Linked DNA regions of Homo sapiens. The protein of the gene in region 3 interacts with the protein of the main gene of each other region in a pairwise test. Each region holds a gene or a part of one and is shown on either strand. Other genes may lie near its edges. The genes, in order: SINHCAF, SH3GLB2, NMI and NECAP2.

Region 1 (5,119 bases), on a different chromosome or scaffold from region 3:
TGAAGTATGATCATTTGTGTTCTCTAAAGAGAAATTTTGATCAAAAGGGGGAAAATGTGGAAATACAAGGAAAAATGGGTTGACACAGCCTCTTCTAAATATTTGTTCTGGCTGAAGAATGTGTACGTGCAAAGGCAGCTATGTCAGTTAGATCAGTGTTAGAACCTCCCATAAATAGGCATGTTTTAACTGTAACCCCTCAAATCTTGAAAAACATCTTGAAATGATTTTTTTTTTCTATTTCAGGGACCTTAAGAAAACATATTGTAGATAGACAGATAGATGATTGATGATAGTGTCAGAAGAAAAGAGAAAAGTGAGCCAAGATGGCTGCAGTTTGGACATATGGGTAATAAAACCATGGCCTATTAACTAAGGCTGACCCTTTGTGCATTTGTAACTGGAGTTTGTTAAATATTTTACTAACAGGTACTGGTTGTAAACTTGTGTATCAGATATAGAACAAAGGCAGGATGGAATCAATCATCCTTCCGCCAGACCCTGAGATGCCTACACAATTATTAATCCTTCTCTCCTACCCGCTCAGCCACATACTTACTTTACCTTATGTGTAACATCACTGAATACCAGTCAAATCGACAAGAGTGTAATTGTTGCTTCACTGTACTGCAGGTATCCCCCTGTTTAAAAAAATGTATGAATACCGTGCCTCGTGTAATCTGCTTTGAAACACAGGTTATAACCTGTTGGAACCTGTGCTTCCTGGGCGCACATCCTCAAGCTCGGCCTGATAAACTTTGTTTGATTGAGATTCCCATCTTGGTCTCTCAATTTGGGTTGACACAGCTAGTATGAGACTGGCATCCGAGATGATGAGTTTACAAAGATGATAAAGACAAGTGAATTCCTAACTCAGTTATTTTTATTTTTAAATATCTCAAAAACAGGCTTACTGAGATCTTTCACGTACCATAAAATTCACTCATTTATATACCATAAGATTCACTCTTGTAATGTGTACAATTCAGTGGCTTTTAGTATACTCAGAATTTTGCAACCATACCACTATTTAATTTTAGAAGACGAATGACAGTTCATAATCAGTATTTTAAGTTTTTCTTGATTTTTGGCTTTATCTCACAGCTTAATTTTCCTCTTCTTTCCCCAAACACATGGTTAAGGATGAGATTGTATGGGGTCTGTTCTCAGCTGTAACTATTAATCAATTAGAAAGCAGATAGTATTACCTTTCTTCCTTTAAAACATAGTGCTGAGTGATATGATGCCTATGAGAATAGAGGCAAAATTCACAGATAGTTTCATAGCTGATGGTGTCATTTGAACAAATAAGATAGATTGTACTGGAGGAATCATTTAATATTGCACAAATTTGGTACTAGGAAAGCAGTATTCTAAAGAACCACCAGATTGCTTGAAAAAACAAATCTCCAGTTTAAAATCAAGTTATGCCACGCCCACCCAGTACTTTGTTAAATATATAAAGTAACTTGGTTTCAGAGACCATTTTATGTCCTTGGTTTTGCTCTAGGGATTAAGTAGTGTTTTTTTTTTGTTGTTTTTTTAAACATTTCATGGGTTTGTAGATTTTTGGAAATAATTTCAGTTAATCTCAGGGCTTCCCAAACCTTGAAATGGTTAAACACCAACCACTGCTTAACTTGGTTGTTGTAAACAAAGCCCGAAATGAAACCCCTGTGTATTTGCTGCAGATTCCCAGGTGCCTCTTAAGTGTGAGGATAAGCTCAGAAAAGGCTTAATAGGTTTATTAAGTTGTCATCCATTAAAAGGTTCACATGCTCCTTGTGTGTTGCATAAGGACAGGTGTCTGCCACCTCATTGCATTTCTCACTGAGCATTGCCTAGGAGAGGGTAAGCCCTAGGATTTAGATCCCTCTCAGATGTTCAGGCAGAATAATTTTGTCAGGACAAAAGTAAGGTCACGGAACTATATGAAAATGGATTATGAATCCTAAGACATCAGCCTATTCTCCCCTATGTCTAAGAAGAATATTCCTCAGCTTATGACTGGAATGTCTTGCTAGGGGTGCTGGGTAAGTTTTGTGGAGGTCCCCACCAGCAGAAAAAAATCATTGAAGAGGAACACTTAATTCACAATGGCTGCTGATTAAAAAGAAAGCCTCAATATTCACCTATAACCCTAACATCCTTAACAGCTTAGCAGTGTGGTAACTGGCACAAACTATGGCGTCTTGGTCAAATCCAACCTCAGTGAAGGTAGTTCACATCCTAGAGATGAGCTGAATGCTGATAGCTTTGAGGACTTGTTTATTTGGGGGAAGGGAAAGAGATGGTGAGGGTAGAGATAGGAATCTGTCTGTCGTAATAGGATTTGGTCTGTGTATTAATGGAATGAACTGGCCTTTTTTGCTCTGCTTCTTTTGTCCTTGCTGAGAAGGGAGGCTGAAGTTTCCAAGAGTTATGGATGAAGTTGGAGAGTATTAGAGGAACTGTTCTCTGACCTTCTTGATGGTAATGCAAGCTGTTGGGCGAGTTTGGAGAAGAGCGCAGGGTGGTGTGAGGACGAGGGCCGTATTAACATTTTGCCTTAAAACAGGAATACACAAATTAAAGCAATAACTGCTACTCTGCTTTCTTGTTTCTGCAATCTTCTGTCATTTGACATTGTTTTTTCCAAAGCAACATGCGACCATTTTCTTCAGGATTTTCTTTTCAGTTATCATATGGGTTTGTTGTTGGATTGAGAAAAAAAAATCTGCCTCATTTGAGCAGGCCTCTCTAGATCTTTTCTTATGACTGTGTAGAGGGTACTTCCTCATTTTTCTTCCTCTCAAAGACATCAAATTCCCAAGCATTTAACTAAAATTATTATCAACTAAAAATGTTTTTTTTAAAACAGTTCTTAGAGGTAACTGTTTAGACTTAATTATTGAAATGCATGAAGGCCTTCTGCCTTGCCCCCATCCCACTCTTTTGCCTGCCTCTCTCACCAACAAAAACATGGCAGAGGAACAGTTTATTAACAATAGCCTGTTTGAAAGGGAAGCTTCAGTTTTTAGCTAATTATTTGCTAATAAAAGTTTTAAAAAAATTTTCTTTTAAAAGTTGTAAAACCTCTGTCTATATTTCAAAACCCCTCAATACCAAAAAAATACACATAAAAAGCCTGGATATTTGGTTCTGAATCATTTTCATTAATACTTGCTATATTATACTAACCAGAATTGGAATGGAATGGGATCAGACGAGATAATCCAAAGACAAATACAGCCATATGTCACACAAGGACGTTTCGGTCAACCACAGACTGCATATATGATGGTGGTCCCAAAAGATTATGATACCATATTTTTTTGTACCTTTTCTATATTTAGATGCACAGATTCTTACCATTGTATTACAGTTGCCCACGGCATTCAGTACCGTCACACGCTGTATAAGTTTGTTGCCTTGGAACAGTAGGCTATCCCATATAGCCTAGGGGTGTTGTAGGCTATTGCCATCTTGGTTTATGTGAGGACACTGATGTCTGCACAAGGATGCCCAATGATGCATTTCTCAGAATGTGTCCCCATTGTTAAGCAACACATGACTGTACTGAAGCTTTAGGTTTACTCATCTAAGTTTATTTCTAAAACAACTTTAAAAAGATAGTGTTCTGTGGTAATAACTCCTAAAACTATGGACACGAAAGTGATATTAATAATTTTCTTGGCCGGGCACGGTGGCTCACGCCTGTAATCCCAGCACTTTGGGAGGCCGAGACGGGTGGATCACAAGGTCAGGAGATCGAGACCATCCTGGCTAACATGCTGAAACCCTGTCTCTACTAAAAATACAAAAAGTTAGCCGGGTGTGGTGGCGGGCACCTGTAGTCCCAGCTACTAGGGAGGCTGAGGCAGGAGAATCACTTGAACCTGGGAGGCAGAGCTTGCAGTGAGCCTAGATCGCGCCACCGCACTCCAGCCTGGGTGAAAGAGTGAGACTCTGTCTCCAAAAAAAAAAAAATTTTTTTCTTTTATTGTTGCTTTATGTGATAATTTTGTGATAATTTATAGTTAGACCCTCATACATACACACATCCTCTGACTTGTCCATTGGAGTTTAGTTTCTATATTCATTGCCTTTTCATCACCTCTCTTAGTCCGGTTGTTTTGGTGAGCTGGCCCTTGATTTGGATATTCCAAATTACTTTTCCTAAGGTACAGATTTACTGCCAGCTACATATTTGCATCCAGCCCCAGAGCTGTTTTCATTCCTTCCTTGACGTTGAGATTTTTTTTTTTTTTAACAGGAGGACTGCAATTTATTTCACTCTACGTCTCTGGGACATTTGCCTCCCACTGTTACTACTCTCAGGCACAAAGCCTTGTAGAAGAGGTCCACAAACCTCTAACAACTAAGGGGCAGATCAGCGGTCAGACAACATGAGCTCGTTCTTTTTTTGTCTTAATGATAATAAGGAATTATTATTATTAAATTCTAACCTTGGATTTTTGTGAATTTTACATCTTCCCTTCAGCAGTTTCAATTCAGGGGCAAACTTGACTGCTTAGAACTTCCCATTTATCACAGAAGAAATCCCCTCTGAATTCCCATTAGGCAAAGTAGTATGGGCTGATGCATAGTGAGCTAGTTGTGTGCTTAGTATCAAATAGTATTCATGGTAAATGCTCAAAACTTCCCCAGAGGGGAATCACGTTAATGCAAATGTGCAAAATAAAAAGGTGTGTCTTAAATTTAAGGATGCATCCTTAATTGTGTACAGCTTCATTATTTTACAGGATTGTTTGTGGCATTTCTTACTTCAAAACCTGATTTTAAAAAATGCTTCTCTTCCCCATTTTTAGATTGCATGTTTGTTAGGCGAGTTAGGAGGTAGTAGAGTCCTCCTTAAATAACTAGGCTTTTCTTTGTGTTTTATACGCTTGCCTTGATAGTGCCAAGAATGGAGGTCGATCCAGGAGGTCTTCCCTTGAGCTGCCTGCCTGTCTTGGTCATATAACACCAAGTTGCTTGGGGGTGGGGTGGAGCAGAGAGAACTCTTTAATGGTTCCTTGTTACAGCCCTCAACAAAGATATGTCAATTCCCTTGGCTTTACAGACTATTGCCCAGAAGAAAAGATGTTTGGTTTTCACAAGCCAAAGATGTACCGAA
Region 2 (5,119 bases), on a different chromosome or scaffold from region 3:
TCCCACACTCTGGCCCAGCCACCTCATTTCACAAAGGGGAAAACAGTGAGGCCCTGCCAGGTCACACAGTATCACACTCAGGGCTGGTTCCTTGACCCTGGGGCCTGCCTGGGTTCCTGCTGGTGGGGAGGGGCAGTCCTCCCTTTCCCCACCACTCCCCCACCTCCTTCTGAGCTCTCCCCCTCCCCACCCCTTGGCCTTCCCCTCTGCGTAGTTCACGGAGGAGAAATTTGGCCAGGCTGAGAAGACTGAGCTTGATGCCCACTTTGAAAACCTTCTGGCCCGGGCAGACAGCACCAAGAACTGGACAGAGAAGATCTTGAGGCAGACAGAGGTGCTGCTGCAGCCCAACCCCAGTGAGTGCGTGTTCGTGGGCCCGGGGAGGGATGTAGTCGTGGGGCAGGGATACAGTAGGAGGCCTGGCCCTGTTGTGGCATAGGTGGGGCGGGGCTGCAGCCGGGGTTTCAGCTAGACTCTTGGGCTCAAGGCTGTTGAAGAGGGACAGTTAAAAGAAAATGGGGGACTCTGTGTTGGGCTGCCAGACACTCCAGGGCAGTGGAAACACTGAGTTTTGCACAGAAGAGTTAAAATGCCTGGAAGCTAAAACACACGTGGGAGAAGAGGCAGGCAAAACACACACCTGGTTGGTCACTCTGTTGGTTTTTTTTTTTTTTTTTTTGAGGTGGAGTCTTGCTCTGTCACCCATTCTGGAGTGCAATGGTGCAATCTTGGCTCACTGCAACCCTTGCCTCCTGGGTTCAAGCGATTCTCCTGCCTCAGCCTCCTGAATAGCTGGGACTACAGGCACATGCCACCACGCCCAGCTAATTTTTGTATTTTTAGTAGAGAAGGGGTTTCACCATGTTGGCCAGGCTGGTCTTGAACTCCTGACCTCAAATGATCCACCCGCCTTGGCCTCCCAAAGTGCTGGGATTATAGGCAGGAGCCACCGTGTCCGTCCCAACCTGGTCACTTTCAAGAGGTCAGCAAGGCCCAGAGATGAAGGGACTGCCCGGAGCACACCCAGGCAGGCCCCCAAGGTCAAGCAGAAGCGACCTGCAGGACTTCCGGGGAAAGGAGGGTGGCTCCGGGTCGTGCTGTGTGTCTGCCTGTAAATCTGCTCTGTGGCTCATTGAGGGGCCAGATAACTTTTGGGTGCCAGGAGCAGAGAATTGTGCAAGCATGTATTATGGTCTGTAATCATATTAATAAGGGAGAAGTGGACGGGCCCTGGCTTCCTCCTCTGTATAGTGCTGGGTCAATCACAACAGTCTCAGGGTTGGGCATGAGCAAGAGCGTATTCTGGAAGTCAGCAGGCCAGGTGCACCTGTGGGCAGGGCCGGGTCTGGGTCTGTTTCTGTTTCATTTTTGGGCTTGAACTAAGGAGCCCTGTGGCTTTGGCTGCTGTCTCCCCACAGGTGCCCGAGTGGAGGAGTTCCTGTATGAGAAGCTGGACAGGAAGGTCCCCTCAAGGGTCACCAACGGGGAGCTGCTGGCTCAGTACATGGCAGACGCGGCCAGTGAGCTGGGGCCGACCACCCCCTATGGTGAGCAGGCCTCACAGCCAGGGACTAGGGGTCATGGTCTTTAGCTCTGATTCTCCCTCCCTCCCTTCCTTTTTTTTACTTAAAAAAATAATTATACAAATAATACCTGAATTCATTCTAAATGTAAAAACTCTACGCAGAAAAAAAGAGTAAAAAATGGAATCTTCTCTTAACCAGTTTTGGTTTGTGTGTGTGTGTGTGTTTTGTTTTTGTTTTTTTTTGAGATGGAGTCTCGCTCTGTCGCCCAGGCTAGAGTGCAGTGGCGTGATCTCGGCTCACTGCAAGCTCCACCTCCTGGGTTCCCGCCGTTCTCCTGCCTCAGCCTCCCAAGTAGCTGGGACTACAGGCGCCCGTGACCACGCCTGGCTAATTTTTTTTGTATTTTTTAGTAGAGACGAGGTTTCACCATGTTAGCCAGGATGGTCTCGATCTCCTGACCTCGTGATCTGCCCGCCTATGCCTCGAAAACTGCTGGGATTACAGGCGTGAGCCACCGCGCCCGGCCTATTTTTTTTTTTTTGAGACACAGTTTCACTCCATCACCCAGGCTGGAGTGCGGTGGTGCGATCTCAGCTCACTGCAACGCCCCTGCCTCCCAGGTTCAAGTGATTCTCCTGCCTCAGCCTCCCGAGTAGCTGGGACTACAGGAGCCCGCCACCACACCCAGCTAATTTTTGTGTTTTTAGTAGAGGCAGGGTTTCACCATGTTGACCAGGCTGTTCTCAAACTCCTGACCTCAAGTGATCCGCCTGCCTCAGCCTCCCAAAGTGCTGGGATTACAGGTGTGAGCCACCGCACCTGGCCTATTTGTGTGTATTTTTTAATGGAATCATATTGTGTGCTATCTGGGAACCTGACTTTTTTTTTTTTTTTTTTTTTTTTTTGGAGATGGAGTTTTGCTCTGTTGTCCGGGCTGGAGTGCAGTGGCGCAATCTCAGCTCACTGCAACCTCCGCCTCCTGGGTTCAAGCAATTCTCCTGCCTCAGCCTCCCAAGTAGCTGGGATTCCATGTGCCCACCAGCACACCTGGCTAACTTTTTTGTATTTTTAGTAGAGACGGTGTTTTACCATGTTGGCCAGGCTGGTTTCCAACTCCTGACCTCAAGTGATCTGCCCGCCATGGCCTCCCAAAGTGCTGGGATTACGGGCATGAGCCACCGCACCCGGCTGGAACCTGACTTTTTAACTTGACATCATATTACAGGTATCTTTTCACTGAAGCATTTATAGAACCATATCCATCTTTTTTTTTTCATTTTAAAATTTTATCCAAGTATAAGCTATATATTATGTGTTTAAGTGTATAATTCAATGATTTTTAGTAAATTTACAGAGTTGTACAAACATCTCCACAATCTAACTTTTTTTTTTTTTTTTTTTTTGAGGCAGAGTCTCACTCTGTCACCCAGGCTGGAGTGCGGTGGCGCAATCTCAGCTCACTGCAACCTCTGCCTCCTGGGTTCAAGCATCCCGGGTCCTCCCTCAGCTACCCAAGGAGCTAGGATTGCACACGCCCACCACCACTCCCAGCTAATTTTTGTATTTTTAGCAGAGACCGGGTTTCACCATGTTATCCAGGCAGGTCTCGATCTCCTGACCTCCGGTGATCCACCCGCCTCAGCCTCCCAAAGTGCTGGGATAACAGGCGTGAGCAACTGCGCCCAGCCAAACTTATTTATTTTTTATTTTCTGTTACCTTTTTTGAGACAGGGTCTGGCTCTGTCCCCCAGGCTGGATTGCAGTGGTGCAATCTCAGCTCACTGCAACCTCTGCCTTTTGGGCTGAAGGCATCCTTCCACCTCAGCCTCCTGATTAGCTGGGATTACAGGTGTCCACCACCATGCCCTTCTAATTTTTATATTTTTCTGTAGAGATGGGGATCTCGCTATGTTGCCCAGGCTGATCTCAAACTCCTAAGCTGAAGTGACCTCCCACCTTGGCCTCCCAAAGTGCTGGGATTACAGGAGTGTGCCACCGTGCCCGGCCCACAGTCTAATTTAAAGAACATTTCCATCACACCCCAAAAGTCCTTCATGTCTATTGTCAAGCCCCATTTTCACCTCCAGCCAGCCAACCACTAACGTGTTTTCGGTCCCTATAAGTTCATTTTTTCTGAACATTTTATATAAATGGAATCATATGACATGTTGTTTCTTGCATTTAGCTGCTTTTACCTAACATAATTTTTTTTTTTTTTTTGAGATGGAGTCTCACTCTGTCACCCAGGCTGGAGTGCAGTGGCACAATCTCGACTCACTGCAAGCTCCTCCTCCCGGGTTCATGCCATTCTCCTGCCTCAGCCTCCCGAGTAGCTGGACTACAGGCGCCTGCCACCACGCTCGGCTAATTTTTTGTATTTTTAGTAGAGATGAGGTTTCACCATCTTGGCCAGGCTGGTCTTGAACTCCTGACCTCGTGATCCACCCGCCTCGGCCTCCCAAAGTGCTGGGATTACAGGCATAGCCACTGTGCCTGGCCTCAGGTAAATTTAACTTAACTCTTTTTTTTTTTTTTGAGACGGAGTCTCTCTCTGTCACCTAGGCTGGAGTGCAGTGGCGCAATCTTGGCTCACTGCAACCTCCGCCTCCTGGGTTCAAGCAATTCTCTTGCCTCAGCCTTCCAAGTCGCTGGGATTACAGGCACCCGCCACCATGCCCAGCTAATTTTTTGTGTTTTTAGTAGAGACGGGGTCTCACCATGTTGGCCAGGCTGGTCTTGAACTCCTGACCTTGTGATCCGCCCGCCTTGGCCTCCCAAAGTGCTGGGATTACAGGCGTGAGCCACTGCGCCCAGCCAATTTAATTTAACTTTTTAAGAAGTTGCCAAACTGTTTTCCAAAGTAGCTGTATGATTTTTTTATTCCTGTCAGTAGTGTGTTGTTTCATTTTCAGATATTTGTGGATTTTCTGGGTTTTCTTCTATTGTTGCTTTTAACTTAATTCCACTGCGATCAGAGAATGTATGAACATGTCGTGCTATGTTAGTATTATTATTATTTTGAGATGGAGTCTCGCTCTGTCGCCCAGGCTGGAGTGCAATGGTGCCATCTGGGCTCACTGCAAGCTCCACTTCCCAGGTTCAAGGGATCCTCCACCTCAGCCTCTCAGCCTTCTGAGTAGCTGAGATTACAGGCACGCACCATCACGCACCTATAATCACACCCAGCTAATTTTTTTTTTTTTTTTTTTTGTTTGAGACGGAATCTCGCTCTGTCGCCCAGGCTGGAGTGCAGTGGCACGATCTCGGCTCACTGCAACCTCCGCCTCTCGTGTTCATGCCATTCTCCTGCCTCAGCCTCCCAAGTAGCTGGGACTACAGGCACCTGCCACCATGCCAGGCTAATTTTTTTTTTTTTCAGTGGAGACGGGATTTCACCGTGTTAGCCAGGATAGTCGATCTCCTGACCTCGTGATCCACCCACCTTGGCCTCCCAGAGTGCTGGGATTACAGGTGTGAGCCATCACACCCGGCGTATTTTTTGTATTTTTAATAGAGATGGGGGTCTCACCATGTTGGCCAGGCTGGTCTCAAACTCCTGATCTCAAGTGATCCGCCTGCCTTAGCCTCCCAAA
Region 3 (4,318 bases):
TTAAAAAGCTACTTTAAAGTTTTCTTCTTAATATTTTTGAGAGCTTTAAATAGTCATTCTATTTTAAAAAGAATAATAGACACGAGAGATTTGTTTAAATGGTAAATATGAAGATTTATCATAAACTGTAGTTTTTAGGCACCATCTCTCATTCTTTAAAGAAAGGTGAAAATGAGAACTCCTGAGAGTAATGTAACTTTAAAAACTAAAAATAAAATATCAGAAGCAAAACTCGAGCTTTTCCTTTTGTTTGTTTTAGATGCCAGGCAGCATTCAATAGGTTTAGAACCTTTTCTAAAAGCCTTTCATTCTGCCAGCATTTTAATATGAATTTAATTCTGCTGCCAGTTCTTCATGAAACCTACCATGTCAGAATAGAAGTTGTCCAAAGGTTTTTTTTCTATTTTTCTTTTTTTTTTTTTTTTTTTGAGACAGAGTCTCACTGCAACACCCAGGCTGGAGTGCAATGGCACGATCTCAGCTCACTGCAACCTCCGCCTCCCAGGTTCAAGCAATTCTGCCTCAGCCTCCCAAGTAGCTGGGATTACAGGCGCCCACCACCATGCCCGGCTAATTTTTGTATTTTTAGTAGAGATAGGGTTTCACCATGTTGGCCAGGCTGGTTTCGAACTCCTGACCTCAAGTGATCCGCCCACCTCAGCCTCCCAAAGTGCTGGTGGCGTGAGCCACCGCAACCGGCCTAAAGGTTCTTTACCAAAAAGACTTTTACCTTCTCTGAATAGGAATCTTTAATTTTATCATTAAAGTTTCTGCAAGTTAAAAACAGTGAGATGCTAGTAAACTGGGTCTCTTTCCAACTAAACTTAAACCCTTGGAGGGCAGGTACTGTGTTTTTACCTCCAGTCATTCCCCAGCATCGAGCATGATAAGTGATGAGTCACTAACTTTGTATTTACCTCTCTCTCCATGCCAAGGTTTTCAAACTCTTATACCAATTGTTTCCATTGTAAGTGCAAAAGAAAGAAAAAGCTAGTCCTTTACGAGCTCTATTTGGAGAGGGGATGGCTTGGAAGGAATCAAGGGACACTTGGCACTTGGGTGAACAGAAATTCAAGAAAAAGATCACACTCAGCTCTGAGAACCTTTAGAGTTGTGGAGTGAAATGCTATGCACAGTGGTAAATGGTTGCTCTTGAAGTCCTTCGAATCTTCAGTTGAGTTTACAGGAATCACCAACTGCTGAATGTAACTGCCTTTGTTTTGGAAAATGTTAAGAGTCAAGTCTGCATATTGGTGGGCATGGGGCCACAACTGAATTGGCCCACAAGACCATAACAGGATGAGCCAGCACTGGCAGGGGACATCTGAATCACTTAAGGTTGATTTCAGCAGACATGGCACCAATACACATAATCTATAAACAAAACTTTTTATTACAGTGCACTTATTGTAGTTGAAAACATGCAGCACCATTTGAAACAAAGAAGATTCAGAAACATGGAAATAAGTTTTGTATCTAAACATAAATGGATGGTAAAAATTAAAGTTTTCATTTTTTAAGGAAAAGCATATTCATTTTTGTCAAACATTTACAGTAATCCGGGTTAAAAAGCTATAGTTTTCATGATTCTGTTAAGTCTATTCTTCAAAGTATGCTATGTGAGGTTGACCTAGAGAACACTTGACCACATCTACTTCTCCACCTCCATTCTTTGCCCGTTGAAAGTGAATGTTAATTAAATCCTCCACAATTTCTTCATCCATTTGAATGCCTTCCATTCCTGTCAGAAGCACTGTCCTCTTAGATGTTCCTGAAAATATCTAAGAAGGAAAAAATGATAAATAGAAAGATTTCTAAGAGCTTTGAATTACAAAACTTTACATTCATAATCTCTGCTTAATATTTTTTATTTTATCTTAGAAGAGACAAGAAATCTTAGGAAGATTTTCCAAGCAAGAGAATATCCAAGTCAGATCTGAGTTTTAGAAAGAGAACTCTGGTGGCATTATGGAACACAGAGGAAAGGAGGGATGCTCTGGGAACAGAAAGACCAGGTAAAGAGGTAGTCAGAAGTGGAGCTGGCAAGATTTAGTGACCAAATGAATGTTGGAGGTGAAGCAAACTGAAGAGTTAAGTATGAGTTCTAGCTTTTAAGTTGGTGGAGTAGGTAGATGGTGGTACCATTGGATACCTGAGAAGGAAGAGGAAAAGGGAGCAGGTCTGGGGTAAAGATAATGAGTTCAGAGAAAGTAGGCAGGAATTCTTTCTCATGCTCACTGACAGTAGACATATGAGAGAAATGCAACTATGTCTCCATGTACAAAAATAAAAATTGTGCCATTATCTGAGTAATTTCAGTTTTAAAAATTGTATAATAAAGTACAGTTTTGCATTAAAATGCTCCTTCAAAAGACAAACTCATTTTGCACCAAGCAAAAATGAAGTAAAGAAACCATTTTGCTATCCCTCATTGATAAGATGCATAAGTAACAGACTCACAACAACTTTATTTTTTGTGGGGTGGGTTTGGGCAGTGAGTTCTGAAAATGAGAGAACAGAGATGACTTTACCTGATACTTTTTCAAGTGTATTTCTGTGTATGGAGAAACAGTAACTCTATGGCAGGTTTGATTTATATAAAGAGGGTATTCTTTCTTTTTCAAAATCTTGTCAGCCACTAAAAGCAAAACAAAAACAATACTTGTCTTTTTTATATCATAAGCATTTTTAACCAAAGTTAAAACTTCCTTCAAAGAGAACACTATTACAGTAAATATTGAGTTAAAAGATTAATTTTTAAGAAATTCTAAAGCCCACTTTGAAGACTTCACAGTACATAATTTTGAAAACTACAAGACCAAACAATAATGAGGTTTAAAGCCTTCATTCCATCTTGAATTATTCACTGCAGTCAATCAATGCACAAAGGGTTGCAATGTCCTCAGACAGATCTACTTTGAGCTATAAAAAATACCATAGTCTTTTGCAGAAAGTAACCCACTCATCTAACAAGACTGGACTGTTTCCCAGTTTCTCAAAAGCTGTAAGTGAAAACTATGATTAGAATACTATATACATTTTTTTCAATATATTCAATAAACTGAAGTAATGATGTTAACCAAAGCAGGGAGGGGATTGAATGTCATCTAGAAAAACTGAAAGGAAATAAAAATTCATCAGTTTTCTACAACACAAAGAATAGTCTATTTTTTAGCAGTATTTTTTTCTCCTAGAGTGGTGAAAGGATGTGTGTCAAGACTGTAACATTTAACAAAAACAGTTCTTGGGAATATACAACCATGTTTTTTATGACTCTTCTCACTCATCTACCTTGGATCAGCAATATGGTACAATGATTAAGAGTGTAGGCCCTCATTGGCGAGAATATGGAGAAATTGAAACCCTGAGGCAATGCTGATAGAAATGTAAAATGGTACAGCCACTGTAGAAAACAGTATGACAGTTCCCCAAAATATTAAAATAGAACATGATATGATCCAGCAATTCAACTTCTGGGTATATACCCGAAACAACTGAAAGCAGGGACTCGGACAGATACTTGCTCGTTAATGCTCAGAGCAGTATTTTTCACAATAGGCAAAAGGTGGAAGCAACCCAAGCATCCACCAACAGATGAACAGATCAACAAAATGGATATATAAAATACACACACACACAGAGAATATTATTCAGCCTTTAAAAAGGATGAAATTCTGATACATACCACAACATGGATGGACCCTGATAACATTATGCTAACCAAAATAAGACAGACAGGAAAAGGACAAATATTGTATAATTCCACTTGAATGAGGTACCTAGAATAGGCAAATTCATAGAGACAGAAAGTAGAATGATGGTTACCAGGGGCTGGAAGAAGAGGTAATGGAGAATTATTGTTAAATGGGTACAGAGTTTCAGTTTGGGGTGATTAAAAAGTTCTAGAGATGGATAGTGGTGATGGTTGTACAACATTGTGAATGTACTTAGTACCCTTGAATTGTACATTTAAAAATTGTTAAAATGGTAAATTTTATGTTATATATATTTTATCACAGTTAAAAAAAAAAAAAAGAGTACAGGTCCTGAGTCAAATAGACCAGCTTCAGTCCTAGCTCTGCTACTTATGAGCTATGTGGCCTTGGATATGTTGCTTGACTTCTTAAAGCCTCAGTTTCTTTTTCTGTAAAATAAGCATAATTACAGTACCTACCCTGTAGATTATTGTGATGAGTCAGTAAGACACAGTTTATGAAGTATCTGGCATATTTATCTCCAGAATACCTTCACATCCTTCAGTAGTTACCTGCTGGATAACCTATAACCTGCAGAAGTATTTTTCCCATCTGGCTAGATG
Region 4 (5,119 bases), on a different chromosome or scaffold from region 3:
CATTCCAAAGAGCTCACACAGAAGCTCAATCCTATCTCTCCACCAAGGTAGGCGACGCCATGGGGCTGCAATGCCTGCTTTTGTGCTTTTCAGGCACCTCCCCCAGTGCTGCCAACTGCCCTTCTGAAGGGCCTGTGTTTGCCACCCTCCACCTTGGCACTAAGTTGCTATTTCTAATCTGCTCTGGGCCAGGAGAACAGATAAAACTAGGGCCCTCAATGGTTTAGAGTTTTACAGTTCACCAAGTGCTCAAGGCACATTATCTTCTGTGAACCTCACCCCAGCCCCTAGGGAAAGACAGATTGGGATGAGCCACGTGACTGTGCAGGTCATTTCAGTTTCCATTCTCTTACCTCTAAAATGCTGAAAATAACAGGAACTACTCCATAGGACTGGTGTGAAGATTAAATATCCACAGAATGCTTAGAACAGGTCCAGCATATAGTGGCAATAACGATATTAATAAAATGAGATCTAACATTCAGTGAGCACTTAGAATGTTCCAAAAATTGTTCTAAGTGCTATACATAAATCAGCTTATTTGATCCTCACAAGAAACTTATATTTTAAGTATCATTACTTCCCCTATCCTACAGATGAGAAAAATGAGGCATGGAGAAGTGATTTTCTAAAGATCACAAAACTGGGCTGGGCACAGTGGCTCAGCCTGTAATCCCAGCACTTTGGGTGGCTGAAGCAGGTGGATCACCTGAGGTCAGGAGTTCGAGACCAGCCTGGCCAACGTGGTGAAACCTCTGTCTCTACTAAAATTACAAAAATTAGCCAGGTATGGTGGTGCATGCCTGTAATGCCAGCTACTTGGGAGGCTGAGGCAGGAGAATTGCTTGAACCCAGGAAGCGGAGGTTGCAGTAAGCTGAGATCATGCCACTGCACTCCAGCCTGGGCAACAGAGTGAGACTCCTTCTTAAAAATAAATAAGTAGGCGAGGTGCGGTGGCTCATGCCTGTAATCCCAGCACTTTGGGAGGTCAAGGCGGGAGGATCACCTGAGGTCAGGAGTTCAAGACCAGCCTGACCAACATGGAGAAACCCCGTCTCCACTAAAAATACAAAATTAGCCACGTGAGGTGGCGCATGCCTGTAATCCCAGCTACTTGGGAGGCTGAGGCAGGAGAGTCGCTTGAACCCAGGAAGCAGAGGTTGTGGTAAGCCGAGATTGCGCCATCACACTCCAGCCTGGGCAACAAGAGCAAAAAACTCCATCTCAAAAATAAAAAATAAAAATAAATAAATAAATATCACAAAGCTAGTAAGCTGAAATTTGAACCCAACCATATTGTTCATATAGTAAGTGCTTCATAAATGTTGATATTCATGACTTATTATCTGACACCATTTTGTTTGTTGACATGCTAACTGCCTGTCTCAGACACCAGAAAACAAGCCCTTGAGAGCTGAAACTGGATGCTATACGTACCAGTGCCTAGAACTCTACCTGGCACACAGCAAGTGCACCATATTAAAATTAAAATGCTGTTAAAAATGCATCAGCAAGGCCAGGCACGGTGGCTCATGCCTGTAATCCCAGCACTTTGGGAGGCTGAGGCGGGCAGATCACGAGGTCAGGAGATCGAGACCATCCTGGCCAACACAGTGAAACCCTGTCTCTACTAAAAATACAAAACTTAGCTGGGCGTGGTGGTGCGTGCCTGTAATCTCAGCTACTCAGGAGGCTGAAGCAGAAGAATCACTTGAACCCAGGAGGTGGAGGTTGCGGTGAGCCGAGAACATGCCACTGCTCTCCAGCCTGGGTGACAGAGCAAGACTCCATCTTAAATAAATAAATATCCATCAGCAACCTTGGTTGCTTAGGAAGGCCTAAGGTAGTAGCTCTCAGACTTTAGTCAACACACAAACAAGAACAAACATAAGGGCCGGGTGCAGTAGCTCACGCCTGTAGTCCTAGCACTTTGGGAGGCTGAGGCGGGCGGATCACCTGAGGTTGGGAGTTCAAGACCAGCCTGACCAACATGGAGAAACCCTGTCTCTACTAAAATTACAAAATTAGCTGGGTGTGGAGGCACATGCCTGTAATCCCAGCTACTCAGGAGGCTGAGGCAGGAGAATCACTTGAACCCAGGAGGCAGAGGTTGCAGTGAGCCGAGATCACACCATTACACTGCAGCCTAGGCAACAAGAGCAAAAAAACTCCATTTCAAAAAAAAAAAAAAGACACAAGAATGCAGATTCTTGCCCCCATCCCCCAGCGATGCCAAAGCAAGTGGTCCTATGACCCCACTCTGAGAAATAGCACTTAAAGAACAGTTCCTGGTACCGGGCCGGGGCTCTCTGACTGCCCCTCCTGCCACTCTCCCCACAGGACTGAAGTCTGAAGCTTGACCTCCAGATAGGGCAGCCAATGTTGGGGAGGCTTAGGAATCAGTAAAGCAGGAAGGCTTCCTGCCTGCAAGCTGGGGAGAGCTGTGTGCAGAAGGCACGCTGGTGACAATCGCCCAGCCTGGGGAAGGCCAGGAGCATCAAGCTGGGCTGGGCGGGGCGGCGGGCGGGGGGGGCGCGCGGGGAGGTAGAGGAAAAGGGCTGGCACCCCAGCGTGGTCAGAAGCTGACACTAGACACTCGCTTCCGGAATCCCAGGGTCTCCTAAGGGCTCCTCAGCACAAACTGCCAGGGCAAATGCTCTCAGATTCCCACACCCGAGGTGCTCACTCCAAACGAAATCTCATTTCCCACCACTCACCTTGGCACACCTTATGCTGTACCCATCTCCCTAAATACACCAGGTGTCTAAAAGTCTGGGCCTCATTCGTGTTCTTCTCTCTGCCTGGAATGCCAACCACTCCCACTCTATCTCCTTCCTTCAAGGTCCAGATCAATGTCACCTCTTTCATGAAACCTCTCCAGATCACAGCAGCTGATGGTGGGTCTAGGCCCTACACATTTGGTCTCTGTGCTGTGACTCATCTCTCTCACTACACGTGAGCAGAGACTGTGTCTCCATTACCCACTCACTCAATACCCACTGAGCAGACACTGGGAACCAGGAACCGACATGTTGATGATTTCACAGTAACTAACAAGTCGCAGCCCTGGCCTCTCAGGGGAGGGCAGACGCCCTAAAGGCCAAGTAGGAGGAGCCCCTTACCCAGCGTGTGCAGAATGAGCTTTGGGTGCCCGCCTTCTTTGACACGGACAGGTACTACATGACCAATCCATGTGTGTAACGGGGGGGAAACCATGGGGCCTGGCTGCCAGGGAGAAGAGGAGCCGGCAGGTACTGATGCAGCAGTCACCCACTGAGCACTAACCTGAACTGGGAGCAACTGCTGGCTGGACGAGGGATCCCCCCACAGCCAACTGCTCCCCAGGGGGAGGGATCAGGGTGGAGGTTTTCCCCCCTGGGGGAGGGGGAAGCAGGCTCAGCCCTCCTGTGCTGGCAGGCCGGACTCGGGGATTCCCAGCTGCTCCTTCCTTCTTCTTCATGTTCTAAAGAGGGAAGAGGAATGCAAATCAGCCCGTTCTGCTGGAGTCCCAATGCTACCAGAAAACCCCACAAGGAGGGCCAAGGTGACCCCAGACCCCCAACATCTGTGTAACCAAAAGATGGTCCTACCTAGCACCTCCATTGCTATGAGCTATACTTAGTGCATCATCATTCTGAATCTCTCACAAATAAGGTCCATTTTAAAACCCAGCACCCCCACTTCATTCATCAGGGAAATGCAGATCAAAGCTATAATGATATACCATTACACGCTCACCAGAATGGCTAAAATGTAGATTATCAAGTATTGACTACGATATGAAGTAACCATTCACGCGCTGCTGGCTTAAGTGTAAACTGGTAAAACTACTTTGAAAAATTATTTGAAAGGATTATAAAGCTCAACATAGGAACTTAAACTTATGACTCCGCAGTTCCACTCCTAGATATAAACCAACAGAAATCATACATATATGCACCAAAAACATGAACTCAAACATCTACAGCAGCATTATTTGTAATCGCCCCAAACTGGAAACTACCCAAATGTCCATCATCAGTAAAACATAAATAAATCGGGTGAATTCTCACAATGGTACATGCCACAACAATGAGAATGAACAAACTACACGCAACACCATGGATGACTCTCACAAAAATTACATTGAGTAAAAGAAAGAAATCATTCCAAATCAAGATTAGGTGTATGATTCAATTCATGAAAGTTAAGAACAAACAAAATCTAGGGTATGTGAAGTCAGGATGGGGTTACTCAGGGCAGTTACTGGGAGGGGCCAGGAGAGGTGTTTCCAGAGTGCTGACAATCTTTTGCATCTTGAGCAAGGTGCAAGTTTATAAATTGGGTGTTTTGTTTTGTTTTGTTTTTTGAGCCAGAGTTTCGCTCTTGTTGTCCAGGCTGGAGTGCAATGAATGGCTCGATCTCAGCTCACTGCAACCTCCACCTCCCAGGTTCAAGCCAATTCTCCTGCCTCAGCCCCCGGAGTAGCTGGGATTACAGCCATGGACCACCATGCCCGGCTAATTTTGTATTTTTAGTAGAGACAGGGTTTGTCCATGTTGGTCAGGCTGGTCTCGGACTCCCGACCTCAGGTGATCCGCCCACCTCAGCCTCCCAAAGTGCTGGGATTACAGGCGTGAGCCACCACTCCCAGCCTATAGATTAGATTTTTTAAATTTCACAGAGTTCTGCATTTATGATTTGTACACTTTTTTACATGCACATTATACTTCAAGAAAATGCTTTAAAAAAAAAACTGAGCACCAAGCATGAGCCAGAAAGCAGCACAAGTTACACAGATGAAGATAATGTGTTCCCTACTTGTAAGGAAAGCAGCAGCTTAATAAAATCGTAAGTCCAGCCCTGAAGTCAAAAGACCTCAAAGACCTCAGTGTGAGCACAGCTGTGCCAGTTATTTCTAGCTCTGTGACCCTGGGCAAGTCCCCAACCCTCCCTAAGCCTCCATTTCCTCATCTCATGGAGGAAAGGGAGAGGATGTTTAATTCACATGAGAAATGCCTAAAAAAAAAAAACAACAAAACAAAACAAAAAACAAAACAAAACAAAAAAAAACCACTACCTGGCCCTCAGCTGATGCTCATTAAATGTTAGTTTCCTCCAAGCGAGAGAAAGAATCAC

What was found.
Region 1: the proteins of NMI (region 3) and SINHCAF interact in a two-hybrid assay, tested with the Homo sapiens proteins (one large-scale study listed by BioGRID and IntAct).
Region 2: the proteins of NMI (region 3) and SH3GLB2 interact in a two-hybrid assay, tested with the Homo sapiens proteins (one large-scale study listed by BioGRID).
Region 4: the proteins of NMI (region 3) and NECAP2 interact in a two-hybrid assay, tested with the Homo sapiens proteins (one large-scale study listed by BioGRID and IntAct).

Annotation. Positions count from the first base shown.
Region 1 is NC_000012.12:31,298,171-31,303,289, reverse strand, and holds part of SINHCAF (SIN3-HDAC complex-associated factor), read left to right. Parts: intron 1-5,065; 5' UTR 5,066-5,085; coding exon 5,086-5,119. UniProt on the Homo sapiens protein: Subunit of the Sin3 deacetylase complex (Sin3/HDAC), this subunit is important for the repression of genes encoding components of the TGF-beta signaling pathway.
Region 2 is NC_000009.12:129,017,519-129,022,637, reverse strand, and holds part of SH3GLB2 (endophilin-B2), read left to right. Parts: intron 1-214; coding exon 215-356; intron 357-1,418; coding exon 1,419-1,547; intron 1,548-5,119.
Region 3 is NC_000002.12:151,269,095-151,273,412, forward strand, and holds the end of NMI (N-myc-interactor), read right to left. Parts: intron 2,639-4,318; coding exon 2,532-2,638; intron 1,782-2,531; coding exon 1,599-1,781; 3' UTR 1,376-1,598; downstream 1-1,375. UniProt on the Homo sapiens protein: Acts as a signaling pathway regulator involved in innate immune system response.
Region 4 is NC_000001.11:16,450,183-16,455,301, reverse strand, and holds part of NECAP2 (adaptin ear-binding coat-associated protein 2), read right to left. Parts: coding exon of another isoform or gene 5,082-5,119; exon of another isoform or gene 5,061-5,081; intron 3,465-5,060; coding exon 3,287-3,464; intron 1-3,286. UniProt on the Homo sapiens protein: Involved in endocytosis.